Linked DNA regions of Homo sapiens. The protein of the gene in region 6 interacts with the protein of the main gene of each other region in a biochemical or structural test. Each region holds a gene or a part of one and is shown on either strand. Other genes may lie near its edges. The genes, in order: SMCHD1, FAM110D, NOSTRIN, GAGE12J, SEMA4F, LNX1 and PPFIA1.

The links.
Region 1: the proteins of LNX1 (region 6) and SMCHD1 interact in a test that uses a peptide from one of them, tested with the Homo sapiens proteins (one large-scale study listed by IntAct).
Region 2: the proteins of LNX1 (region 6) and FAM110D interact in a test that uses a peptide from one of them, tested with the Homo sapiens proteins (one large-scale study listed by IntAct).
Region 3: the proteins of LNX1 (region 6) and NOSTRIN interact in a test that uses a peptide from one of them, tested with the Homo sapiens proteins (one large-scale study listed by IntAct).
Region 4: the proteins of LNX1 (region 6) and GAGE12J interact in a test that uses a peptide from one of them, tested with the Homo sapiens proteins (one large-scale study listed by IntAct).
Region 5: the proteins of LNX1 (region 6) and SEMA4F interact in a test that uses a peptide from one of them, tested with the Homo sapiens proteins (one large-scale study listed by IntAct).
Region 7: the proteins of LNX1 (region 6) and PPFIA1 interact in a test that uses a peptide from one of them, tested with the Homo sapiens proteins (one large-scale study listed by IntAct).

Annotation. Positions count from the first base shown.
Region 1 is NC_000018.10:2,704,226-2,707,725, reverse strand, and holds part of SMCHD1 (structural maintenance of chromosomes flexible hinge domain-containing protein 1), read right to left. Parts: intron 2,033-3,500; coding exon 1,919-2,032; intron 1,363-1,918; coding exon 1,256-1,362; intron 164-1,255; coding exon 81-163; intron 1-80. UniProt on the Homo sapiens protein: Non-canonical member of the structural maintenance of chromosomes (SMC) protein family that plays a key role in epigenetic silencing by regulating chromatin architecture.
Region 2 is NC_000001.11:26,157,683-26,161,878, reverse strand, and holds the start of FAM110D (protein FAM110D), read right to left. Parts: upstream 2,801-4,196; 5' UTR 2,753-2,800; intron 668-2,752; 5' UTR 588-667; coding exon 1-587.
Region 3 is NC_000002.12:168,858,137-168,861,636, reverse strand, and holds part of NOSTRIN (nostrin), read right to left. Parts: intron 2,126-3,500; coding exon 2,000-2,125; intron 843-1,999; coding exon 728-842; intron 117-727; exon of another isoform or gene 1-116. UniProt on the Homo sapiens protein: Multivalent adapter protein which may decrease NOS3 activity by inducing its translocation away from the plasma membrane.
Region 4 is NC_000023.11:49,320,654-49,324,836, reverse strand, and holds the start of GAGE12J (G antigen 12J), read right to left. Parts: upstream 2,801-4,183; 5' UTR 2,693-2,800; intron 1,652-2,692; 5' UTR 1,644-1,651; coding exon 1,560-1,643; intron 1,095-1,559; coding exon 974-1,094; intron 1-973.
Region 5 is NC_000002.12:74,652,992-74,657,046, forward strand, and holds the start of SEMA4F (semaphorin-4F isoform 1 precursor), read left to right. Parts: upstream 1-1,255; 5' UTR 1,256-1,385; coding exon 1,386-1,530; intron 1,531-3,542; coding exon 3,543-3,694; intron 3,695-4,055. UniProt on the Homo sapiens protein: Probable cell surface receptor that regulates oligodendroglial precursor cell migration. Might also regulate differentiation of oligodendroglial precursor cells. Has growth cone collapse activity against retinal ganglion-cell axons.
Region 6 is NC_000004.12:53,581,487-53,584,986, reverse strand, and holds part of LNX1 (E3 ubiquitin-protein ligase LNX), read left to right. Parts: intron 1-3,500.
Region 7 is NC_000011.10:70,375,190-70,378,689, reverse strand, and holds part of PPFIA1 (liprin-alpha-1), read right to left. Parts: intron 2,159-3,500; coding exon 2,090-2,158; intron 661-2,089; coding exon 495-660; coding exon of another isoform or gene 487-494; exon of another isoform or gene 219-486; intron 1-218. UniProt on the Homo sapiens protein: May regulate the disassembly of focal adhesions. May localize receptor-like tyrosine phosphatases type 2A at specific sites on the plasma membrane, possibly regulating their interaction with the extracellular environment and their association with substrates.

The DNA.
Region 1 (3,500 bases), on a different chromosome or scaffold from region 6:
TCTCGTGACCTTTTACATATTGGAAATGTAAGACAAAAGAAAAGCACACTTTTTGGTATTAGAAAAATAAACAAACATACCAATAGGGGTTCCAGCAGGCCTAACCTCATTAGGCAATAATTCATCTCCTTCAGGCCAAGTTACTGACAATCTATCAGGGAGCCTGTTATGAAACCAGCATATTAATGTTCCACAAACTTTGTTAATTATGATCTTAATTAAAAAGATACGAGTTATTAGAAACTTAAATATTTATTGCTGATATATTTTAAAAGGTTAAATCTGGAATTCTTTACGATTAATCATCTAAAAATTTTTTTCCTCCCTAACCATTCCTGTGGCTACTGAAAAAAAAGAAGAAGAAAAAAAAAAACCTTTTGGAATTAAAAGCCAGAAACTGTCAAATTTTTGTTGATTTTTTTTTTCTACTTGTTTATAGTACAAATTACCTTTAGAAGACAGGATAACCCCTAAGAATCAAAATTCAGTAAGAATCAAAATGATTGCATCATTAGCTATACAAGAAGAAAAGCCACTTTCTACTTCCTTCTTCTTCTTTATAACTCACTGATAAGGTTTGGCTCTGTGTCCCCATCCGAATCTCATCTCGAATTCTAATCCCCAGGTGTCAAGGGAGGGACCTGGTGGGCGGTGATTGGATCACAGGAATGGTTTCCCCCATGCTGTTCTCTTGATAGTGAGTTCTCACGAGAGCTGATGATTTTTAAAGTGTTTGACAGTTCCCCCTTCCCTCTCTCTCTCTTCTGCCGCCCATGTAAGACATGGCTTGCTTCCCCTTCGCCTTATGCCATGATTATAAGTTTCCTGAGGCCTCCCCAGCCATGCACGACTGAGTCAATTAAACCTCCTTGCTTTATAAATTACCCAGTCTCAGGTAGTATCTTTATAGCAGTGTGAAAACGAACTAATACACTCATCTTTACCTCTCAGCAGGTATTGTAATATCCTAGTTGTAGGCCAAACTGAGTTTTTTTAAAACATGTTAATCATAGTGCCTATAAAAGTGACACTTTAGATATATAAGATTTCCTTCTTTGTCTACAAAACAAATGCAGAATTCTGTTTGTATAACTAGACCTCTTAATTTTTTTCAACAAGAAGTTCATCTCAATAGGTACAATATCTAAGACTACAAATGCCCTAACAGCAGAGTAAATGACATACTCAGAATACTTACAGCACAATTCTTTCCAATTTTTCTTATTTTTGTCATGCATCTTGAAGTGTGACTTACCTTGCCATTTCATCTTCTACATATTTTTTAACAGCTTTCTCAGCAACTGTCCTATCCAGCTTTGCAATTGGCACAGTTCTTACTTCATCATATAGTGCCTGAGGTTCCTGAATAAATACATTTACCAACATTTCAAAGAAAACTATTTAAATCTAGCTGTAATAAAAACAAACACCCATTTGTTTCTTCCAAAGAAATATATTTTATCCTAATTAAGTACATAAATAACAGTAGCTATTCTTACGTTACACCACAATGTTTGTTTATATTTTTTATATAACCTCTGTAGTCCTAACATATCAAACATTAACAAGAAAGCATGGTATAGGGAAAAAACCCACTCCAGTTTTGTAGTTACTCATTGCTGAGATAGAATTCTGGCTCCAATGTTTACTAGTTAGTGGGCCCTAGAGGAAATATGACTTTATAAAATTAATTTGGTAACTAGTTATAATGTATATATGTTTACAAAAACTGAGCATATGATGTTAAATTGTATAGATTATTAAAAACATCAACTTATGACACATAAAAATCCACACAAAAACTACAACCACTTTATCCAATGGAAAACTAGTCACTAGCGAAATATACTGTATCTTAACAATTATGCAAAAGTGTTATCAAGAAACTTTCAGTATGTTTTATCACTTGCTGTCTTACCATTGCAATTTGAACCTCTCCTCCTGTAGCATATACTTCTCCATCATGATCGCCATAAAGAAAAAATCTTACTATGCTTCCATAAAAGAGGGGAAGTGTCTTGATTGTCTTGACCTAATATTTAGTTTTTAAAAAAAAAAAAAGCTTCAGTATTAAGATTTACGAAGAGAAAAAGGCTTAATAATAATTTTACAGAACTTCTTTATTACAAAGAAAAAAACCTTGGTAACTATCATTAGAAAAACTAATGAAAACAGCATTCTAATATTAAAATAAAATTGTATTTTTGAAGTTCTGTACTTAACAAATAGTTGTAAAAATATGGCAGCTTCTTTATACAAATGTGTTAGAATTAAGCATGTGTCTTACAAGTCCAGAATTCCTTCAAATTCAGTCATAATGAATGCCAACATATCTGAAACCTTTTTTCCCCATAAAATTCTGCTCTCAGATGATGAACAGCAATTTATAAACTTTGACAAGTTAATATTATTTTTCAAATACATCAGCTCAAAACTTGCCTATCATATTTCTTCTCCTTACTTGGTTTAAAAAATCTAAGGGAAATTTCCACTACTCCAATTCAGAAATTCCCAACAAGGACTATAAGAGTTTATCCCAACCTACCTTGCCTGCCCCATTTCTAAACTATTTCTCTTCACACATACAATAGGCAGCAGGACAACCCAACTCTTACTACTTGCTGTTTTTCTGCACTTAACCTACGCACATCTCTATGCTCAGATTACCTTCTAGAAAGCACTTTACTCCATTACCACTAAGCATTTGACTAAACTGATCACTCCTTTCTTCTTGTAACTCTTCACTTGGCTCTAGGGATGTCACATTCTGCTAGTTTCCTTCTGTCTCACCAGCTTATCCCTGTCAGTCTCCTCTGCCAGCTCCTCCTTTTCATTCTAACCACTAAATGTTGGGAAAGCTCCAGGCTCAATCCTTTTACCTCTTTAGCTATACTCACCAAGTATAGATGATCTCATCCAATTCTATAGCTTTAAATATATGATGGTATCTCTCATTTATGGAGAGAACAGAGAGCCTTCTACCTTGTAATTATCTGTGTAAACCTGAGCCTCTACCCCTTTCAAGGTCCACACAAATGTTACTTCTTTTCCAAAGTATTTAACGATCTGCTCTGTTCTTCCAGCCCACACGACCAACCAAAGTAAAAAAAAAAAAAAAAAATCCTCTCCTCTTCTCTCCTTCTAACCTGCCAAAACACTATTAATCCTTTCTTTCCATTGCATTGATCCACTTCTTACCTATTATTTATGCTTACACTATCCCCATTGCTAGGATATAATATCACCAAGAGCAAAGCACATCTCCTATATCTCTGAATTCTCCACCACACAGTCAAAAGGTGCAGTAACTTACTATGTCAGCAGATGCTCAACAAAAAAATACTTAAAAATCATTACTTAACGCATTACATTAAAAACAAACAAACAAACAAAAAACACTGAGATCTCCATGTGAGTAAAGTTTAGTTTAGGAAACCATAAAAACCTTGTTAATTGAGCCTCTGGCAATAGTTTTTTTAATGCTATAATAAATTATGGAA
Region 2 (4,196 bases), on a different chromosome or scaffold from region 6:
TGCGGGCTGGCGTCGGCTCCCCAGCTCTGCGGGGAGAAGCGCTCTGCGCCCAGCACCTCCACCAGCGCGCGCTCCAGGCCGCAGTAGTTGAAGAAGCGCTCCTTCTCCGACAGGGGCAGCGAGCACGTGGGACACAGCGCCCGCTTTCCCGCCGCTTCCGGGGCATCCTGGGGCGCAGCCCAACCCCCTGAAGCCGCAGGTCGCTCTGTGGAGGCCGGGCTGCTCGGGGCAGCGTCCCGCGGGGCACCCAGAAAGAGGCGCCGCACCAGACCCTGGCCCTTGGCGTTCTCTTTGTTCACCGAAGCCTTGCAGTCCCGCTTCTGGCGGTAGAAGATGAGGGAATCAGGCCTCGGCAGCCGCCTGCCGCTTCCCCGGCGGACCGGCCTGGGCGTCCTGGGCGATGCAGGGGGCCCCAGCTCGTTGCAGGGGTGCGGCGTGAGCGGCCCAGGACTCCCACGCAGGGCTGGCTCCTGTCGCCTAGCTATCACCTGGTGCGTCTTGACATACTTGGCTTTGTCGGCTTCCAGCCTCTCCACGGCGCTGGGGGTCCGTCCTCTGGACGGGGTGGAGGGAGGGGCCAGGAGCATCTTAGCAGAGCTGGTCAGGACAGTGCCCCATAAGTAGCCAGCCACGGGGCCTAGAGCAATTGGCTTGGGCTCTCACTGACCTGCAGGGAGAGAGGAAGGTCAGGGGAAGGGTAGGAAATGCCCCTGGTCCTCTCCTGCCGGCATTCCTCAGTATAGGATCAGTCAGCCACCCTCTCCCATCCAGGTTAGCCGGTGCCACATCCAGGGAGCAGAGGCTCAGGCCATCCCCTTTCCCTGTCCTTCAGAGACATTGAGTGGGGTCTCTCTGGCCACTCAGAAACATATTCCCCTTTGAAGGTGCCCCAATCTGGCCACAGGGTCGTGCAAGCAGGCCTTAGCAAGCAGGACACTTGGAAAAGGAAACAGGGCTGGTCCCGGCCCAATTCCTGAAAGTGGCTTCAACCGGAAAAAATACCTCTTCCCAACCCAGCAGCTTTGAGCCCAAGACAAGAAGGCTCCCAGCCACAGGCTGGCTCCAGCAGGGCCCACCCTTCCCGCCCCCAAACACCGAGGTCGGGGATATAACCACAGGGTAGGAGCCTCCAGTAATTGCAGCCAACTGCCCTGCCCAGGCCCAGCAGGGCCATCGGGGCAGGAGAGGGAGGTGGTCCCCAGGCCCTATCAGCTACTGCCAGCTACTCTGCCCCTGCCAAGGGGATCGCAGAATGCCAAACTGTAAACATCACCTTGTTTAACCTTTGCATTTCCATTTCATGAAGAGGAAACTGGCTTGGAGAGGAGGGGGGCTTGCTCAGGTCCTATTGAGAGTTAGGAGCCAGGACTGGAACCCAGGTTTCTTTTTTTTTTTTCTTTAGACGGAGTCTTGCTTTGTCACCCAGGTTTCTTGCCTTGCAGTTCAGATTGGATCTCTCACTTGCCTATCAGAACTTCCCACTGAGGCCAGGCGCGATGGCTCATGCCTGTAATCCCAGCACTTTGGGAGGCCGAGGTGGGTGAATTACCTTAGGTGAGGAGTTCCAGACCAGCCTGGCCAACATGGCAAAACCCCATCTCTACTGAAAATACAAAAATTAGCCAGGCGGGGTGGCGCACACCTGTAATCCCAGCTACTTGGGAAGCTGAGGCAGGAGAATCGCTTGAAGCTGGGAGGCGGAGGTTGCAGTGAGCCGAGATCGCGCACCACTGCACTCCAGCCTGGGCAACAGAGCGAGACTCCGTCTCAAAAAAAAAAAAAGAAAAAAAAAAAGAACTCACTGATATTTTGCGTGTATTCCCGCTGCTATAAAACCAAGCAATTTCCGTTAGAAATGGGCCCCTTGCCTCACTAAAAAGTTCCTTCCACTAATTCTTCCTAATAACCTGCGCTCCCACTCCCAGAAATTTGCCCCCAGGGTCCTTGTCCCTTTTTTATCCTAAGACCTCATGACCCTTTTCCACCTCCCTTCTGCTGGGGCAAGGAGCGAGGAGGGGTTGTAAATCAAGAGCTGACAGTTCTCTTGGCAGTAACAGAATGGGCCACCCACATGGCCCTGCACACCCGACCCCACCCCTATCTTCCCCTACTCCCCCTGAGTCCTGGAGGCTGAGGGACCTTGGATCTGGGGACAACAAAGGAACAGAATTAGCCAGGGAAGTGGGGAAGGAGTCTGTGAGAGGCCTTGGGGCAGAGACCCTGCCAGGTCCAGCCCACCCCTGCACCCAGCATCTAGTGTGTAGTCAGTCTGCTCATAGGTAGTTGAGGCCTGGGAACCAAGGAGAGTCTGGCAGTGTCCCCCTCCCTGTCTCCCAGGGAGTCTCCTTGGCAGTGGGTCAGATTCCAAGGTCCCAGGAAGGCACTGCTTGTCTGACCCCATGGGTGCCCTCTGTCCTCTCCTCTTCTCCCCAGCCCTGAGCAGGGAGACTATAAAAAGTTCCTAATCACAAGGACCAAAATAGTCTGTCATCCACAGCCTCTTCCCTGCCTTCTGGGCTAGCCTGGAGGCCGGACCTCAGACATCCCGCCCTAGAAGCCTGGCAGGCAGCCTCGGGCCCTCCATTCCTTTGCCTGCCTTCTCCCAGTCCTGAAACTTGTGGTCTCAACTCTGCCCAAGGCTTCTGCTCTGGGCATGGGCCATCTTTTAGGCTCACTAGTTTGGCACCAGTCTCCCTGCCCTCAGGCCCCTGGGTTCCTTCTTACCCCAGCCCTGGGCTCAGGGTACACTCACCTCTGCATGGGAGGCCTAATTGCAGGGGTCCTTGGGCAGGTCCAGACTGAGGGCAGGAGTGGACAGCAAGGACTAGAAGTAACTTTGGTGGCAGCCAAACCTCACTCTCCACAGGAAAAGCAGAGAAAGCCTCCACCCCCCGCCCCCCAAATTAACCCTCGCCTTCCTGAGGCAGATCCTGGCCTCCATTAACTCTTTCCTGATCACAGTCCTGCGCTGTGGAGACCTGTGAACCAAGTCCAGCTCCTTTTATTTTACAGATGGTCAAACAGTCCCAGCCCGGTTAGGTGATTGGCTGTGGAAGCACTGTGAGCTTGGGCAGAGCCAGGACTCCAAACAAGGCCTCCTGATCCCCAGGCTTCCTCCAAAGGCCTGGGGTGGGGGCTCCGTATGTGGGATCAGCCCCCTCCCTGGGCTGTGGCAGATGCTCTGACAGTCTGAATGGGAAGGCAGAACAGGGTTCTAGTCAACTTGCTTTTTTCCCTCTGTAGCAGGCTGAGACCTGTCTTGGTCTGGGTGCTGGGTGGTGTCAAGCCTGCTTTCCCTGGGGGCGAGACCAGGAATCTGCAGCCTAAGGGTGGGGGCATTGGTGCTATAGATGTGCAGGTGAGCCTGTGGCGGCAAGTCTTGTCATGAAGGTGACCCTGGAGCCCACTGGAGCTGCCTCTGCCAAGGTCCTTTCATGGCAGATGGGATTGCCTGGGAAGACAGTGATGAGGGGCTGATTCCAGGGCCAAGCCCAGGTCCTTTGGCCCGCTTCCTTCTCTGCCCACACTTGGAGCCTCTTAGAGCTTCTTCCATCAGAGTTTCTTCTCTGACACCTTATGTCTCAAGGTGAAACCCTACCTCATAGGAGACACCTCCCCTCTCCCCAGCAGGCAAACTAAACTCTCCAGCCCAGACTAAGACCAGTGCTCAGGCCAAAGGTTCCTTTCCCCCCTTGGCTGGCCACCTTCCCCAAGTCCCTCCTCCTCCTTTCTAGCCCTCTTTCATGTTTGCAAAGCACATTCCCGTCTGTGCTCTCTGATCTCCTTTGACCGCCCCCAAACAAGGACCCTAGACAGGCGTCCAGCAGGAATGACCCCCCACTTAATGAGTAAGGAAACAGGAGCTGAGGGGGGAGAGAGATGCCCAAAGCCCAGCTCCAAATCCACATTTGGAACTGCATCCTCTGCCTGTCAAGTCAGTAGTGGGTCTGAAAACCCAAGGCCCATCTCCCGGTAAAAGGTTTTTATTACCTAAAGGGGGGATTTTGTTGGTGATAGTTCCATATTTTGTTGCTACAGCACTTTTCAAAATGCCATTAGCTGCTTTGTCATAATCCCCATGACAATCTTTGGGGGAGGTTTTATTATTTTTCACACTTACGGCTGAAGAGACTGAGGCTCAGAGAGGAGAAATGACTTATCCAAGCTCACCAAACTCTGTCACCCAGGCTGGAGTG
Region 3 (3,500 bases), on a different chromosome or scaffold from region 6:
AGGTATAAATACGGGATATTTGGGGCATGTGCATGTTATCATCATCCCTAGCTGTGTATGGAACTGTTTCTCAAACAATGCAACAGTGACTCCTTAATATATTGTGTGAACCATAATGTCCTGGTTTTACTGAAGTTCTTTTTTTTTTTTTTAAACCAATTTCTAATTTAAAAAACTAGATAGTCAAGATTATGGTAATTATACTTGAACATGCAGGTACAGTGACACGTGTGTGTGTGCTGAAAGATGAAGAGCAGTGTGGTGTGTGGGTGCATGAATGACTGAAGTCAGATGGCTGCTAACAGGAGTTTGTAGGCCATGAGTCCAAGCCCTGGCAAACCACCTGGATCACCATGTGTCTCGCAGAGAGGACAGGCTTCTTATGGGAGTTTGGAGGAGGCTATGGAGACAGAGCGACAAAGCTCCTCACGATGGTTTAGGTGTGATTATGTTTATGGCAAATAACAGGCCATTTGAATAAGGTGGATGCCAGTCATCTGATATCTGAGGCAACTTCTCATAGGATACTTTCCCAACCCTCTACTCTTCTTAACTTTTTCCCATTTTTACATAAAGCTACAGAGTCTAACAAATTAATCGGTCCCAATGGAAATATAAATTTCCTTAAACAGATACAGGTCAAAGTGGCTCTGAAACTAAAATTTAAATGTAGCAATGTGCCCTGCCAGTAGGACCCAGGCCAAAATGATTGTGGGCATGGGATTACCTGGAGTTGAAGAACCTGGATTGCTCTGCCCACCAGAAGATGCCTTGCTCACAATATTCTCTAATCTCTTCATTAAAAAAGGCCGAGATATTTTCACATAGCTATGAGTATGCTCCTGTTCAAATGACATAAAAAGTCATATTTTGTAACACGATTATCATAAACATTCATGAAAATTAACTCTTCTGTAGCTGTTTTCCTCAAGTTGTTTTTTCTGTTTGTTTTTTCTTTTTTTTTTTTAGACAGAGTCTTGCCCTGTCACCCAGGCTGGAGTGCAGTGGCATGATCTTGGCCCACTACAACCTCCACCTCCCGGGTTCAAGTGATTCTCCTGCCTCAGCCTCCCCCGTAGCTGGGATTACAGGTGCCCACCACCATGCCTGGCTAATTTTTGTATTCTTAGTAGAGACGGGGTTTCACCGTGTCAGCCAGGCTGCTCTCGAACTCCTGACCTCAGGTGATCCGCCTGCCTTGGCCTCCCAAAGTTCTGGGATTACAGGCATGAGCCACTGCGCCTGGACTGGAAGTTTTTAAACTGAGGGGTATAAATAATTCAAAGATTTCTAAGCCCTACTGTGTTTCAGTTTTGAGTTGAAGCCTTAATATTTTCACAATTACACAATTACTATACTTTATAGCCTGTGTTTCCAATTCTAACCTATGTGTCTAGGTCAAATAGTAATATTCATAGCATTACTTTTACAAATACAACTTTAGTTGGCTTAATGCAAGTGAAATGATCACAACCCTGTAAATGATTGAGATTGTTTTCGAGCTCTTGAGCCTTAGAAAACTGTCCCTTCACAAGATGATTACAGTTCCCCCTTCTGATCAGTAATAAAAATAGCTACAAGCATTTCAGAGCTGTACTGATGCATTATCTGCATTAGGCACCATCTTAAACAGATGAGACTAATACATACCACAAAATCTTATAATTTAGGTCTGAACGAATATTAAAATTTCAATTTAATAGAAATTTTACTGTAAAAGCACATCCAAAGGATGAAATTCAGGTATGATGAGAAAGAAGAAATCAAAAGTGTTTTTTAGCTTCTCATAGAAGTTTGGTGTACACAGAATGTATTCGGTTTTGTCTAGCTCTTGTTATTGTGCTCAAAAGAAAAATAAAAACATTTATCTTCTTAACTAACTGCATGAATATTAATATCACATAGAATTCCTAACACCTTTTTTGCCCTGATGCTACTTTAAGCCACTCCACCCAGCAGGCCCAATCAAGAAATTACAACCAGTCTCCTTAAATGTTACCTTTTCCCTCCACCTGAAGATGGAATTACTACAAGGATGGCTGGGTTGAGGTCTTTGCTCAAGTTCTGCTAACATTGATGACAGTTTGTAGGAGTTCGCTTCCAAAAGGTCTAGTTTCAAATTGTTCTGTGGATACATCATTTGGCCATGTGAGCAAATTTCTAGTAAATGAGGCACAACTGGATAGGAATATCAGAATAACTTTCAAAATAACAAAGGTTAGAAAAGTACGCATTTAACTCATACAGATATTCACAGAAAATGCCGAAGGAAAAAAAAATGGAGGAATAAACTCTTTAAGCAGTTTAGAGGGAGGTTTTAGTTGTTGAGTGTGTCTCATTCTGTACTCTGGGGGTGAACAGGAAACCTTGGTAATATATTAGTATTTTATGGCAATGAAGAGGTTTTACTCAATTTTCTGCTGAGGGACAAGAAAGGGGATAAGTGTTGATTGTAGAAGGTAGATTTTTGGTGGTCTGCGAAGAAGGTGAGCCATCAGTGCTAAATATTGTGAACAGAATTGAATTAACATCAATAGACGCAAATGAAATTGAATGTGAGGTTTGTTTGTTCTTTGATAAGGTGAGGTCTTATATTACCCACAAAGTTTACAGGAATACTTCTGGAAACTGGGAACAATATTTTAGGGCATTTGAGTATAAACATAATAAGTCAAGCTAAAGATACACTCCTAGTCTCTGTCTGTTCTTGATATGACCTTGAACTAGAAACTTTATAATTACCTTGTCAGGCTGGGTCCAGCCAGGGTGAATTAAATAACAGAATCTAAGCATTGGAAGGGTCTTGCTTATCCAGCCCCCTCCTCACCATTATCCCTCTCTCCCCCACACCTCCAGCATGGGAATTCCCAACCCTAATATCCCTGCCAGGGTGTCACAGCCATGGACAGAAGACATCCAATTGATGGAGAAAGTCTCTAATCGTTGGAGGAATCCACTGCATTGTGGGGCAGGCTTACCTAAGACAAAACTAAAAGCTCCCCCATGCTTTCTACCATTAGACCTTCACTTGATAGTCTCATAGAGCACATCTAGTTCTTCTTCTATGTGGCCCTCTTTCTGGTCTCTAAAGACAGTATTTAATCTAAGTGCCTCCAGTTTTCTCAACAATTTTTCTTATGACACTGCTTGTGAACATTCTTGATTCAAACATGGCACTTCAAGGACCAAGATATAATGAAATAAGGAAGAATGTAAATAAAAGTTTCCTCATCCTAGAAACCTTCCGTGGGTGACACAAAATCTACCAGTATCACTAGTTTCTGTCTACCCAGATGCAGAGCATGCGTAATGAAATCATGTGGATATTTGGCATTCCTCACTTAAAGGTTCATAGTTGCTCCTTCACCAGATCATAAACATTGGAAGTTCCAAGGTCAGATGCTCTCCCTCCTTGTGTCCTCCACTGTGTGCTTCAGGTGAGAGGACCCAGATGATCCTAATACATGTATGCTGGTAATGACAATGACAAAATTCTGTGC
Region 4 (4,183 bases), on a different chromosome or scaffold from region 6:
TTACCTATTGGGGTAAAGAGAAACTTCACTTTGTTCAAATAAAGTTATATTTAGGTCCGAAGGTCCTAAAGGTAATATTCCATAAATGAACCCCGTGAAGAACAAAGCACCAAATATAACATTGTTTGTGAATCACAGAAAATATACTGTCCCGCACTGAGAATAAGGGAGTGGGTGGACAGCAATTAATGGGCATTGTTGTCAGTCAGATTCTAGGAACTTTTAACAGTGCATCCCTGGAATAATCCATGACCTCCATTACATAAACGCTTCCTTTCAAAACATTTTATCTCGGAGAAATTATTTCCATCTCACGTTAATCTCAGGATAATTCCGTTTTTGCTTTTCTAACCATAAAAGGATTTAATCACCTCCTAAAAGCCGCTGAGAAAAATCACTAAACCAGCTACCTGTATGGCAGTATCCTCATTTATCCAGCTTTTATCAAACGTACCATATAAAAATATCAATCAAAGGAAACGGGGGCCAACATTCAGCGACTCGGTTTTTGGAGCTGCTCCTGCTCCTCTGAACTGGGTCTATTCTTGGGTCAGTACTAAGCTACCTTACAGTAAAGCCTTTTGAGTTTTAAGCATTTTCAGCAAAATCACTTCCTTCTTTACAGCAACACACATGATAGGAAGACACAAACCTTGGAACACAATACAAATGTTGTATTCACCAGTCAAGGGTTCTTGGATAACACACAATCCTGGCACCTCCATTCTCTCATTCATAAAGTCGAGAACTTTTATCATAGTGAGGGATTTGCCTAAGCTAAGCTGCAAACTACATAGCCTCCTCGCTTTTCCAGTCAATTTCAGGCATTCTTTCCATTGTTTTCTTTCCTCCTCTTCCTCCTATGTGACAATGCCTAACACACACACACACACACACACACACACATGCACACACACACACGAACACACACACACGCACACACCAGCAGACGTTCTTCTTCCCTTTCCCTCACCTTGACCTGCAGATGCTCCCTCATCCTCTCCCTCCTGAGCAGCTGCAGGATCCTGACGTTGAGTTGCTGGTTCCCCTTCTTCAGGTGTTGCTGGTTCCACTTCATCACTGAACTGCTCGGGCTGGGGAATACGTGTGGGTGTGCAAATAAAAAATAAGTTTCGTTATTGATACAAAATTTTACATATATACACAGAATACATAGCTATTTCTGGTCCTAACTAAGCCTAAAGACATTTCTCCAACTCTATGCTCTATGCCCAATAAGGTTACTCCACCCACAGGGAGGTTACTGTGAGAAAAGTGACGCACGAGGACTTTGGAGGCTATTGTACTCTGTGTTGGAATACATGTGTACAATCTGTCATTAACAAACAAAGCCGGAGAAAGAAGTCATGGGCAAAAGCTGAAGAACACGAGAGGAAAAAAAAAATCCTCCAGAATCAATGTTTCCTTCATGAGATGCCATCATCATTTTTTATGAGCAGGAAAGACCTTTATCAGCATTTCCACACTAATGCAACAACGCTATCACAAAAATTAATTTCTACTAATAGAAAACATCGAATTAACGTTCAAGCACTCACCCGCATAGGCCCAATCATTTCAGGAGGCTGTACATAGGGTCTTGGTCTAGGCCAATAATAGGTCGATCTTCCTCGCCAACTCATATTTCACACTGAAAACAGACAACCGTGATTGGGAACGTGCGCTCCACAGGGCTGCTATATTCGATCACTTCCATGGATAAATGTAAACTTGCCGTTTTACTTTTGAAAATACTCTCAAGATAAGTCCCAGAGTTAAGCATACGTGTGTACGCTGTCTGAGTGCCTACAAAGCCACTTCTGCTGGCCAGGCTGGCAGAGCAATCATCTTAAGGCATGTGGCAAAAGGCAGAGGACATTTTTTTCTAAATTTCTTTTGGACACGCGGTCTCGCTGTGTTGCTCAGGCTGGAGTGCAGCGGCGTGATCACAGCTCACTGCAGCCTCGACCTCCCGCTCAAGGGATCCTCCCACCTCAGTGTCCCGAGTAACTGGGACTACGTAGGCGAGCGCCACTGCGCCCCGCAGACAGAGGTCATTTCTGATGAGGTTTAGTTTCACAAGTGCACTCCCCACGAAAACCCTAGTGAATCACAATTCTCGTGATTGCTGCTTTGGGCACACTCCCACTTCCTAGAGCCATTCACCCCCCCTCACAACAAGTTTGGTTGGACCGCACTGCCTCGCCCACTCCTTCCCACTGTTTTCGGACCTTCCATGGCGGAGGTGAGACCTTGCAGTGCTTCTCACTCAGGCGCTCCGCACTCCACACCGCTGGGGGGGGCGCTCACCAGGCCGCAGCCTTCCCAGGTGCCAGGCCCCTTCTTCACCGCCCGCCTCGCCCCCGCCGGAGGCCCCATTCAGGGAATCTGCCCTGTGTCGTCGGGGGTTCCCGGCACCTCGGGACTTCCATCCCCCCAACAGCACTCACCCCATCTTCACCTGAGCCCCTGACCGCCTCCCCTCCACGGCCCACCTTCCTCCCCGTCCAGGCCCCTTCACGACCACGAAGCCGCCGGTGGCCTCGCAGCCTGTGAAGGGAAGGAGGACGACCTCGTGGCCCTTCTCCCTCGGAGGCCACAGACCAGGAAGCGGGACCCGCCTGACCCACCCAAGGCCCTCTCCACCCTCACTCACACTTCAGCCCCCGGGATGACTGGCCTGCAGACCTACCAGATGAATCTCAGTAGAGGAAAAAGAGTCCGGACGGCAGGAACCACACAGCACTGCCTCACAGCTCCCTGGCGTTCTTCACGTGGGCGAAGGGGCCGGGCAGAAGACGCCCAGTGAACATGCGCACTGAGGCGGGAGCCCAGGGAGCATGCGCGGCTGTGGGCTGGGGAGGGCTGCCGTTCCCAGCGCCACGCCCCAAACCCTCCATGCCCATCCTCATTGAGGATAAGGGAATCCCACCTCCCTCTGCTGTTTCCTATGCCTCTGGGACTCAAGTAGTGCTCCCCTCAAAACTCACCCCATCTTCAACTGAACCCCACCCCCAACCCAGGGCCCTCTCTTGCCCCGGACCCACCATGGGGACAAGGACCACTGTGACTGGCTGGGAAGACAGGTAAACCACCTGCGAAAACAGAAATAGCAACCTATCCCAAAAGGAAATTGTTCATTGTGAACAAGTCAGAGAAAGAGACTGAAAGAAAAATGAATAGAATCGCTAGGACCCGTAAGAAAATGCTAAAACGATATCTATCATTTGTAGCATCAGAATCACAGAGGGTGAAGTGACAGTATTAGGGAAACAGGACAGCCAGAGTGAAACCACGTGAAAATATACTCCGTCTTGAAAGCAGCAAGATACATAGTCCTACCAGTCACAACCCATGGTCCTAAGATGTTTGGAGTTGAGAAAACAGATGAAAGGTACCTCCAAGGACATGCTCCCACAGCAGCGGAAAGTGCACGGTTCCCAACACCCATTAACAATATATGCTTTCAACAGAATTATGCTTTCATGGCCTTACACACTGGTAAGTCAAGGATAGTTTTCTTTAAATCAATAGAATGATAAAAGTCATCATGCTCTTAGCCCACCCGCACAAAGGCACAGATTAACTTTAGTCTTTATATAGATAAGACCCCTATATAAGAAAAACCAGACCAGGCCAAGGCTCACGCCTGTAATCCTAGTATTTTGGGAGGCTGAGCTGGCCAGATCACCTGAGCTCAGGACTTCGAGACCAGCCTAAGCAACATCAGAAAATCTCATCACTACAAAAAACAAACAAAAAACCATCGAAAAATTAGCTGGGCATGGTGGCATGTACCTATACTCACAGCTACTCAGGAGGCTGAGGTGGGAGGAGCGCCTGAGCCCAGGAGGTCAAGGCTGCAGCGAGCTCTGATAACACCACTGCACTCCAGCCTCGGTGACAGAGTGAGACGCTGTCTCAAGTTTTAATAATCGAACCTAAAAACGTACAAATTTATCAATCGAATTCACTATATTAACACATGAATGGGAAAAAACGCTGTGGTAATCGAAATAGATGCACTGTTTGATGAAAATCAACATATATTCAAATGAATACTCTCAGCAAATTTGGAACAGAATGGAATGACTCACTCTGATAAAGTCCATCTACAAAAAAAGGAGAGTGAATAGGATGGTGAAATGTTGAAATTTTTCGGTTTCTCATCAGGGATAAGACA
Region 5 (4,055 bases), on a different chromosome or scaffold from region 6:
ATTTTCCCTCCAGGCTAAGCAATTCGAATTCAGGGACCATGTCTTTTGTTTGTTTGTTTTAAGCCACCAAATTCTGAGGTTAATTTGTTACATTTGTTTTGCAGCCTAAATAACTAATACAATGGGGGTGAAAGAGGAGAAAGCAAAGACTACCTACTAAGTGCAGACTAAGTGCTTGAAGAAGGAGCTAGGGGCCGGGCGCGGTGGCTCACGCCTGTAATCCCAGCACTTTGGGAGGCCGAGACGGGCGGATCACGAGGTCAGGAGATCGAGACCATCCTGGCTGACACGGTGAAACCCCGTCTCTACTAAAAATACAAAAATTAGCCGGGCATGGTGGCGCGCGCCTGTAGTCCCAGCTACTTGGGAGGCTGAGGCAGGAGAATGGCGTGAACCCGGGAGGCGGAGCTTGCAGTGAGTCGAGATCGCGCCACTGCGCTCCAGCCTGGGCGACAGAGCGAAACTCCGTCTCAAAAAAAAAAAAAAAAAAAAAAAAAGAAGGAGCTAGGGTTGGGATGGAGGAGATAGTGAGTTATCCTCAGGACCTATGCTTGCCTTGTTTATAGGATATCCAAGTGGATATGCCCATAGGCAGTCTTTGTTCCTCGCCCTCAAAGGCCTACCAACCCTAGAAGAATCAGTTCAAATGTCACCTCTTCTGTGAGGCCTTCCTGATTTCCTCTGGCAAAACCTGGCCCTTCTGCACACTTATTGCACGTTATTATAGCAAACGTGCATTGCTTCGTATTGCAATTATCTATTTGCAGTTATTTGCTTACATTTGGAAGCCCCATTACAGTGTGAACTCCCTAGGGCAAGGGCCGTGATTTTTAGTATTTTCTGTATAATCGTGTGTGTGTGTGTGTGTGTGTGTGTGCGTGTGTGTGTGCGCGCGCGCGTTACACTGTGCCTGCCCAGCACATAGGCAGCCGTCCTTAAATGCTTGCAAAGTATTAATTTTGAGAAACTTGGTGCGTGTATCCACGTCCTCTTATTAGTAAGTTTTCCTTATTAGTACAGCTATGGGCGTTTGAGTTTTTGGAGTGGCCGGAGCAAACTCGCCACTCGAGGTCCCTGAGTGGCAGCCCCAGCGCACTTCCGAGGCAGAACTCCCACCTTCACCTGGGTCTAGCTCCGCCTCTGCCTGGGTTAGGCCTCTCCTCCCCTCAGCCCCGCCTTCACTCAATCCCGATTGGCTGGAGGAAGAAGGAGGCCCGACCATTGGCCCCTTTCTGAGGGGGCGGAGCCGGGCGGTGTTTCATCCCTCAGCCTCAGGCTGAGCCGGACCGAGCCGAGAGGACCCGAGTGGGGCCGAGGCCAGTAGCCCCGGGGCCCTGAGCAGAGGCCGTAGCTTGCGCCGCACCCGCGGCCAGGCGGAGCCAAAGATGCCGGCCTCTGCTGCGCGGCCCCGCCCGGGTCCCGGGCAGCCTACAGCCTCGCCCTTCCCGCTACTGCTGCTGGCGGTGCTGAGCGGCCCGGTATCCGGCCGCGTCCCCCGCTCGGTGCCCAGAACCTCGCTTCCAATCTCTGGTAAGGCGCGGACGCCCACGCCCTCAGCCCTTCGCGCCCACACCCACACCCACACCCACCTGCTCCTCAGACCGCTCGGCCGGACCCGGGCCTCTCAGCCTGGTGTATGGCGTTTCACGCCGCCCACGCCCCGCCGGGACCGGGGCGAGATCTTCGCACTTCACCGCATCCTCTCTGCATCCCTCCCGCGCCCCTCAGCCCCTCATCCCCAGCCCGGGCCTCGCGCCTCGGCTCCCACGACACGCCCAGGCTGCACCAGCGGGCCCTATTCCCGGAGCCGCAGGAGCGTCCAGTCCTCACCGTGCAGACTCGGACACTGAGGCCCAGAGCTCGGGTGGGGGCTGCCCGAGGTCGTTCATTTCGAAGTTCCGTCTCCCTTAGTCCCCTGTTTCCCCGCACATACACCTGGGTCCATCATTCCAGCTTGACGCCCACTCTGCTTTCAGACCCATCAGTCTTTCATTCTACTCCAGCTTTCCATTCCGATCTCCAGGTCAGCATTTCCATCTTCTCCAATTCATTTCCCTATCAGTTCTATACATCATCCGAGCCTCTTGGCCCTTCTGACAGCCCTTCCCGCTCCCCTGACATCTCTGACAGCAGCTCCCATTCTCCCATTATTGGATCCACGTTAACTCTCTTAACTTCCTCAGTGTTCCTCGCTGCCTCTGCCCATTCCCTACATTGAATATTGGTAAACCATTCAATGTGTTGATGTAAAGTTCTGCTTAAATGATTTTTCAAGTCTTCAGAAGGAAAAATAGAGGAGGGGGATATGATCCTTTGAAAAGATGTGGAAGAAGCTAGGAGACGTCACAAGGTTAAAAGTGATCATTGGGGCGATTCACATTTTAGACTCTGCTGAGGTGGGTATGAGCATGGCCGTGGACCTTGTTGTCTTCTCAGTGGGCATTGAGTGTTATTAGCACCTTGGGCAGACAGAACCAGTGAAGCCAAGAGTACAACCTGTTGGCAACAACTCTGGACTGGTTAATAGTAGTTTAGAGTTTAAATTCAGACTAGTGCCATATAGGGATGCTGTGATTCCAGAAGGCGAAGTTGTGGCCAGAGCCTGGGGTTTCAGTTTGCACCCAAGCAATAGCCACAAAGTAAGTTGAGATTGCCAGGCTGGGTTGATGTCCAGGCATCCAGAGATGTCTAGATGGCAAGCAAGGTGAAGCAGAGTTGAGGATGTGAGGGGAAGTTAGGTGATCCAGGGCTTATACTAAGCATGAGAGAGTGGGCACAGAGGTAAGTATGGGTGTGGGAGGAAGGAGTGGGCGGGACTCATCAGTACATCTAGGAATGAATGGGTTGGTGTCCAGTCTGCAGTCTTGAGGGTACTGAGCAGAGGAAGCAGGTAGAGCAGAGCTGTATTGGTGCAAGGGTAGGGTCCCCAGAACCAGAGGTTGAGCTAGGAAGGTAAATTCATGCCAACTTATTCCAGTCTTTAAATAGATACGAATTTTGAATGCTAATATGAGGTTTAGATTTTTTTTTTTTTTGAAGCGGAGTCTTGCTCTGTCACCCAGGCTGGTGTGCAGTGGTGTGATCTTGGCTCACTGCAACCTCTGCCTCCCAGGTTCAAGCAATTCTCCTGCCTCAGCCTCCCAAATAGCTGGGATTACAGGTGCGCGCCACCTTGCCTGGCTAATTTTTTGTATTTTTAGTAGAGACGGGATTTCACCATGTTGGCCAGGCTGGTCTCAAACTCCTGACCTCAAGTGATCCACCCACCTCAGCCTCCCAAAGTGCTGGGATTACAGGCGTGAGCAACCGTGTCCAGCTAGTGCTCTATTTTTATAGAAAAAGCATACTTACCCACTGGATTGTGTGCTAAATATTCTGGCCTCATCTATCTCTGGTTCACTTGTCAAGGCTGTGTTTCTCCCCCATGGCTGCTTAATAAATGGTACTTGGAAGAAAACAAAAATTGGCCCCTTTGGTTTTGCTCTTGTGGACTTGACCCTTAGGAAGCGATGGCTAACATCACTCTCCTCTCTTCCTGCCAGAGGCTGACTCCTGTCTCACCCGGTTCGCAGTCCCTCACACATACAATTACTCTGTTCTCCTTGTGGATCCTGCCTCCCACACACTTTATGTTGGCGCCCGGGACACCATCTTCGCTTTATCCCTGCCCTTCTCAGGGGAGAGACCCCGCAGGGTGAGAGACAAGAGAGGGAAGGACCCCTGACCCTGTAGCATGTGATTAAATCTATGATTTTATGAGTGTGTGTGGGGGATTTCATAATAACTAAAGATGTAACAGCAGGGGTAGTAGGAGGGGGTGAGTTGGGAGACATGGGGGGAGATCATCCACTTTGTTTTCTTAGCTAAGAGTATGGCGGGTCAGGGTGACTGGGGAGGATATGAAGGAGGTTCATGATGATGGGGAGGAGACCACAGTGACCAGGTTTCAGGTGACAATGGGCAGAGGGATCATTAAAATTACAATACTCTAGGGAAACAGCTTTCAAACTTTTTTTTGACCATTATTAGAACTATACAGTTTGAGCATCCCTAAT
Region 6 (3,500 bases):
AAGACAAAGATAAAAACAAGGGAGGAACCACCCAATGCTGTCTTTAATTTGGGGATGTGTGTGTCATGTTTTGAGTAAGCAAATGTGATATACGTTACACTGAAAGGCAGAACAAGGCCAAAGGTCAAAGTAACGTGGGAAGCACTAGCTATTTGAAAAACTGACCAGTTCTCCATCAGTGGAAGTGTTTCAGATAGAAGCTGGTAGGTGCTGTAGGGATCTTGAAAAGAGGATTTTTCTACTTGGTGAAAATCTAAGTTCCTTAACCGATCAAAATCCTATGACTTCTAAATAAATCATTTTAAAACCTCACATAGAGGTCGTCATATGGGTCACATCAAGAGATCACTACTCTTCCTTGATTGACACATTTGCTCAGGTTCTTCTCACCTGGATTACTTCCCACTTGTCCAGATCGCATTTATCATTCGTGATCCTTCCCAAGGACCGTCTATCCCATTAACTTTCCTTGATTGTTCTGGGCCACATGCACTCTCTATTGTCTCTCCTCCAAAGCTTGTCCATGGCTCCTGTCTTGGGGCATTATACACATTGCCATGTATTATGTATTCTCTTGCAGTGTTTTTACATTTTTTTTCCTGTGGATAAACTCTGTTTTCATAATTAGACTTAAATGTATTGGAGATGAAATGGAATTCCCTACAGGAACTCCCACAGAGTTTAAGGCCAATCCCAGGCATGGATTAGGCAAAGCCATGACCCCTGTAGAATTGAAACACAGCCGGAAAATGTTGAGAATTCAAATATCTTTCCTCATCTTGTCCTTCCCTCTGTAAAACTTGGTTATCTGTTTTAAAAAAAACAACAACAACAGAAAAAAAACCATACACACATAAACACTTTTTGAAATTGTTTTTCAGCTTTGGATGAAAGAATGTCAGTTTGCTTCTTTTCCATACCCCTCTGATATCAGCTCTTCCCGGGATCCTTGGTGACTCCTAGCATGAACAGAGCTCCGAATCAATGCAAAAATACTCTGCCTTCATTTGTCGTTGTTGTTGTTGTTGTTGTTGTTGTTGTTGTTGTTGTTGTTTGCAGGGGGTCAGTTCTATTTCATCATGTTTATGGACTAGGAAATGGAAGGACATCTTTTCTGTTACAGAGTTTTTACAAACAAACCCAAGTATGGCACCCCAGGGGAAAGGTGGTAAAATCTCGTCAAGAGAAGGAACACTCTTCTCTAACCTGCTTATGAAAGGCATTCCCTGACTTCTAAAACTTGCGTCTAATTGTCTAGCCACTTGGGACTCTTTTCGCTTAACCACTTCCCTTGTTTTTCCCACATTCTGAACATCTATGTCCTCCTTTATTGACTCCAGATGTATTACATGGTCTCCCTTTAGTTCAATTCTCCTGTAATTTCTTGACATGTTTCTGACCTCTTTAAAGACCATTTAAAAGGGTTTTTTTTTTCTGTATTTTTGGGTGTTTGCAATACTATACAGGCTAATGTCATTCACAGATTCATTAATGAGTGGCTTAGTCCCTCTTCGAGATCATTGATTTAGAAATTAAGCAGAAGCAGAGCTAACCACGACCTTGGCGGCAGCCTGTAAGCACCTGCCTCCCCACTCTTTCCTCTGCAGTGTATTTGCCCCCCATCATGCACACACAGACACATCACCCCAAACTTCCAACCCAGGTTCTTAGTTTGAAGATAATTTTATTCCATGTGTGACTATTTTTATCCAGGTCATTAATGCTCCTAATTCTTCCCTATTACATGAGAGTCTGTAAGCTAAGGAATAGCCCACAGAACACTGCCCATCCTCTGTGTATGTTCATTTACAATTGGCCTTTATAAAATTGCCATAAGAGTTTGATGGCACATTATCGATCCTGTCAAGTCTTACTAAATTTATCTAAAATTTAAAATGTAATTGTACATTTACTTTGTTTAATACAGAAAGATAGACTTTGCCCTAACTTTGGCAATTATTTTCCCCCCAGTAACCTGATTTAGGAGTTACAGCTAGGGCCAGGGCAGTAGTTAGGCAGACATGCCTGCTGGGTGAATTATTTTAGAAAGAGAGATGAGGCCACCATTTGAAGAAGTGGCAGGCGCTGGTCTGTTTGGTTCCTCTGTGGGTATATTTCTGCTGTTCGTGGTCCAGGATGGTGTTTCTGACTGTGATGGTGATTTTTGCACTGAGCTGTCACCCCAGTGACCAGTTTGAAACTAAGCAACCATTCTGCCACATGGAGCTTAATCCAAATTTTAAAGCATCATCAACAATTAAAAAAAAAACAAAAAAACAAAAAATCTTAAGCTCATTTTCTTGAAGCTAAAAGTAACCTCAGAAATAATCTGATATAGAGTTAGCCCTTGTGTGTTTGAAACATGCTGTAAAACAAGAGGTTGGCTGAAGGGAGTAAAATATTTTGAATAACTTTTAAATGTGCAAAAATTCAAAGCAAACATGAATACAGTAGGGCAGAGCCTCACACTGTTTGTAAAATGTCACATTCCATGTGGTGTCCTTGCTGGAGAGAACTCTTTATTACTTGACTGGGCTCGCTTATGTACTCATGAAACAAAGCTCTTACAGGATCCGGTCGTTTTGTGATCTTTTGTGAGACCTGGCCCTAGGTTACATTCTTTGCTTCTTTGAAGCGAGTCATTCCTCTTGCCTTGTGAACCCTTCAGCAAACTGTTCACCTGTGTGTCTCTGTCAAGTGTAACAATCAGCTGAAGCAACAATCAATTCTGACCTTGGGTGAAGTTTAGTGGCACACCTGGGAAGAGTTTGTAATTCTACTGTTTTGTCATTGTAGCTGGCTGGCCACCAGGTCAGGTAAAAGGAAAATATCAAGATCCAAAAAAGTAGTTGGTAGCAGAGCTGCATCCAAACCACAGTTTTGATATTCTTAGGTTTCTAAAATTAACAGTGACAAGGTCATAATTAAGGTGAGGCAAGTGAGACACTCACCTTCAGGTGCAAAATTTAAGGTGCAGAAAAATTCAGTAATCCTAATGTGAATGCAATATTTAAAAAAATGCAAAATGAATGCAAACAATCCATGATGAACAAAAGATCAAAATGTATTCAAATAAAGACAAGATCAGTAAGCTAAAGTTATTTAGAAATTGTTTAAGATCATCACTTAGTTAAGAGAAATGATCAAACATGGCAATTTCCTCAATCAAAAACAAGATGCGTGATATGGTTTGGCTGCGTCCCCACCCAAATCTCATCTTGTATTGTAGCTTCCATAATCCCCACATGTTGTGGGAGGGACGCAAGGGGAGGTAATTGAATCATGGGGGCGGGTTTTTCCCATGCTATTCTTGCGATAGTGAGTAAGTCTCATGAGATATGTTGGTTTTATAAAGGGCGGTTCCCCTGCACATGTTCTCTCGCCTGCCACCATGTTAGACATGTTTTTGCTCCTCCTTCACCTTCCGCCATGATTGTGAGGCTTCCTCAGTCATATGGAACTGTGAGTCCATTAAACCTCTTTTTCTTTATAAATCACCC
Region 7 (3,500 bases), on a different chromosome or scaffold from region 6:
GTGACTGCACGGAACAGCAGCAGCAGGGAGGGCAGAAAGCATAGGCAGAGCTCACACAAGCTGGAAACTGTGTGTTCTTAAAAATGTACTCAGTTATTTTCTCTGGTGTGGAGAGCAGTAAATTATGTGGTTTGGAAGCTACTACTACACTACTATTTCCTGAAAGAGCTTTCTAGCACGGCCTGTCACAGACACAAATTTACAAGTATGCCTCAGTCTCTCTCTGAGAACACAGACGAATACTGAGCTTTATTAGTTGGAAAAATATGCTAAGATTCAACCAGACAAGCGTGTTTTAAAAATTCTATTATTATGGTTAAACTTTTATAAACAAATGTTAGAGTTAATTTAAAAACATTTATATTTGGACATGCAACCATACTCAAGTGCCTTGTAACATATTAAATAGGCCGTTTTAGATCATTATTAATGTTCCAGACAGAAAGCTGCTCATGCTCCCAACAAGTGACAGGTTAGTGTGACCCATCACATACCGTCCATCTGCATCTTCTTTGGCTGCATAGAGGGGGAAGACATAGAAGAAGTCACCCGGAAGTTTGCAGGGAGAGTCTCTGCTGACCCAGCAGCTAAGCCACGAATGTCCTTTGGTCTAAACTTTTTTCTCCATGAAGGTGCTCTCCTAAAGCTTTTATCATCATCCTGGTAAATTAAGGAACAAAAAACAAGATTCATTTAAAAAATAAAGGTCAGAGATGTAAAGTTACATGTCCTTTAAAATGACTGCTGATCTCGAGAATGTATTCTTGTCCACATGTATTTAATCCCTTCTTGATGACCACACAATATATTGCCCAACCTGGAACTTCAGCGTGAAACGGGGCATGGTGATGGTCCGGCTGGGCCTCAGCTGGCGAAATGAGGTCGGTGCTGGGCCATGAGGATGTGCTCCTTCTCCACAGCATCATGTTCTACTTCTTACACCTTGCAGGAATCACTTTCTTGCAACGTAATACGTTTTTATTTATCTTAAAAATAGTTTATTTTTCATTTTTATTTATGTTTTTACAGACAGAGTCTAGATCTGTTGCCCGAGCTGGAATGCAGTGGTGTGATTATAGCTCACTGTAACCTCAAACTCCTGGGCTCAAGCCATCCTCCCACCGCAGCCTCCTAAGTAGCTGGAACTACAGGTGTGCCCCTACCACACGCAGCTCTACAAACAATTTTTAACTAGAAACAATTTTATCTTATGCCAGGATATAGCAACAAGTGCTTCATCTTTAGAGGTGGTCTTCTATTCTCTCTGTCAAACTCAACTTTTCTTAAGGTCCAATTAAGAGACTCCTAATCGTGTGGAACAAATGAGTCATGGTTTTAAGGGGAAATTAACATTTTGTGTTTTTAATATACTTCTGAAACATGCCACCCCACCCATGCACAGGAGTATGGGGGTACACTCTGGACTGGGGTAGGATAACTACTGGTCCCCAAAACCCAACTTACAGACTCTGTTCCTAAGCTGCAACCAATGTTTTATGATGTGAAAACCATTTTTGAGGGATGTCAAAAATTAAATAGCAAAAATAAAAACAAAACTACCTTCTTGAAGGTATTACTTTTGTGGGTTTTTTTTTTGCGGGGAGGGGGTTTCTTTTTGAGATGGAGTTTCTCTCTGTCGCCCAGGCTGGAGGGCAGTGGTGCGATCTCAGCTCACTGCAACCTCCACCTCCCAGGTTTAAGCGATTCTCCAGCCTCAGCCTCCCAAGTAGCTGCGATTATAGGCACCTACCACAACGCCCGGCTAATTTTTGTGTTTTTTAGTAGAGATGGGGTTTCACCATGTTGGCCGGGCTGGTCTTAAACTCCTGACCTCTGGTGATCCGCCCGCCTCAGCCTCCGAAAGTGCTGGGATTACAGGTGCGAGCCGCCGTGCCCGGCCCAGGTATTAGTTTTTAAAGGCTCATTTGTGAATAAATGTATAAGAGCAAAGCCTGACTTCTAACATCCAGAGAGACTGCCTAGCTACATGATGTCCCAAGTATAATAATAATAACAGCTTACATTTCACACACATTTAAACATTTACACACATTTCAGACATTTAAAGAACATTAGGCCAAAAACTTACTTCATCAAACCTTCTATCAGTCCCCATGACCAAAAGGTTGTTAAATTCTCTTTCCAAGACAGCACGAGCCTGAAATAACCAAAGAAAAACAAATAAAACTTTCATCAAATCTAATTTGAAGGGTGTTAGCATCGTAATTGTTTTTTAAACCAAGACTTAAACTCCCTCACTGCTGGCTGGGTCTGGTGGCTCACGCCTGTAATTCCAACACTTTCGGACGCCAAGGCGGACAGACCACCTGAGGTCAGGAGTTCAAGACCAGCCTGGGCAACATGGTAAAACCCCGTCTCTACTAAAAATACAAAAATTAGGGCCTGGGTGTGGTGGCTCATGCCTGTAATCCCAGTACTTTGGGAGGCCGAGACAGGCAGATCACTTGAGATCAGGAGTTTGAGACCAGCTTGGCCAACATGGTGAAATCCCATCTATACTAAAAATACAAAAATAAGCCGGGCACGGTGGCGTGTGCCGGTAATCTCAGCTACTTGGGAGGATGAGGCAGGAAAATCACTTGAACCTGGGAGACAGAGGGTGCAGTGAGCCAAGATTGCACCATTGCACTCCAGCCTGGGCAACAAGAGCGAAACTCCATCTCAAAACAAACAAAAAAACAACTCCCTCACTGCTATGACTACATTGAACCATAATAATATTTTAAATCAGGGCATCTAATGTGGAGTCAATGGATGGGCTTTTGCAGAAAGGGATCCATGATCCTTGGAGTCATATTAACAAGGGTGTGTTGTGTGGGTTGGTCAGGGGTATTGGCCAAAGATATTCAATTTTTTTTTTTTTTTTTCCTTTTTCTTTGGGATGGGGGTCTCACTCTGTCACTCAGGCTGGAGTGCAGTGGCGCAATCAGAGCTCATCACAACCTCCACTTCCCGGGCCAAGCAATCTCCCTGCCTTGGCCTCCCAAGTAGCTGGGACTACAGGCATGTGCCACCACACCTGGCTAATTTTTTTGTATTTTTTTGTAGAGACAGAGCTTCACCATGATGGCCAGGCTGGTCTCGAACTCCTGGACTCAAGCAATCTGCCTACCTGGGCCTCCCAAAGTGTTGGGATTGTGGGCATGAGCCACCTTGCCTGGCATATTCAATGTTCTGTAGAGGAATAAAAGTTCCCTGTTTTTCAAATGAGCCCATGAGTCAAAAAGAATGGCATAAGGCAATTACCCATAAAAACAAAATTAATAAAATCTTCATGTGGCACACCTAAAAACACTTCTCTTTCCATGTAAGAACTAAATATATGTCACTCTTCTGATCAGGCACATGGGCTGGAATGAAAGATCGTCCTTATCTGGTTTATTGCAGGACTCTCATGCTTCCAACAGAAAAGGGAAAGCCAATAGACCAAAAAAAAAAAAAAAAACCAAAAACTAGTTGTCTGAAGTTTTTTTTTTTTT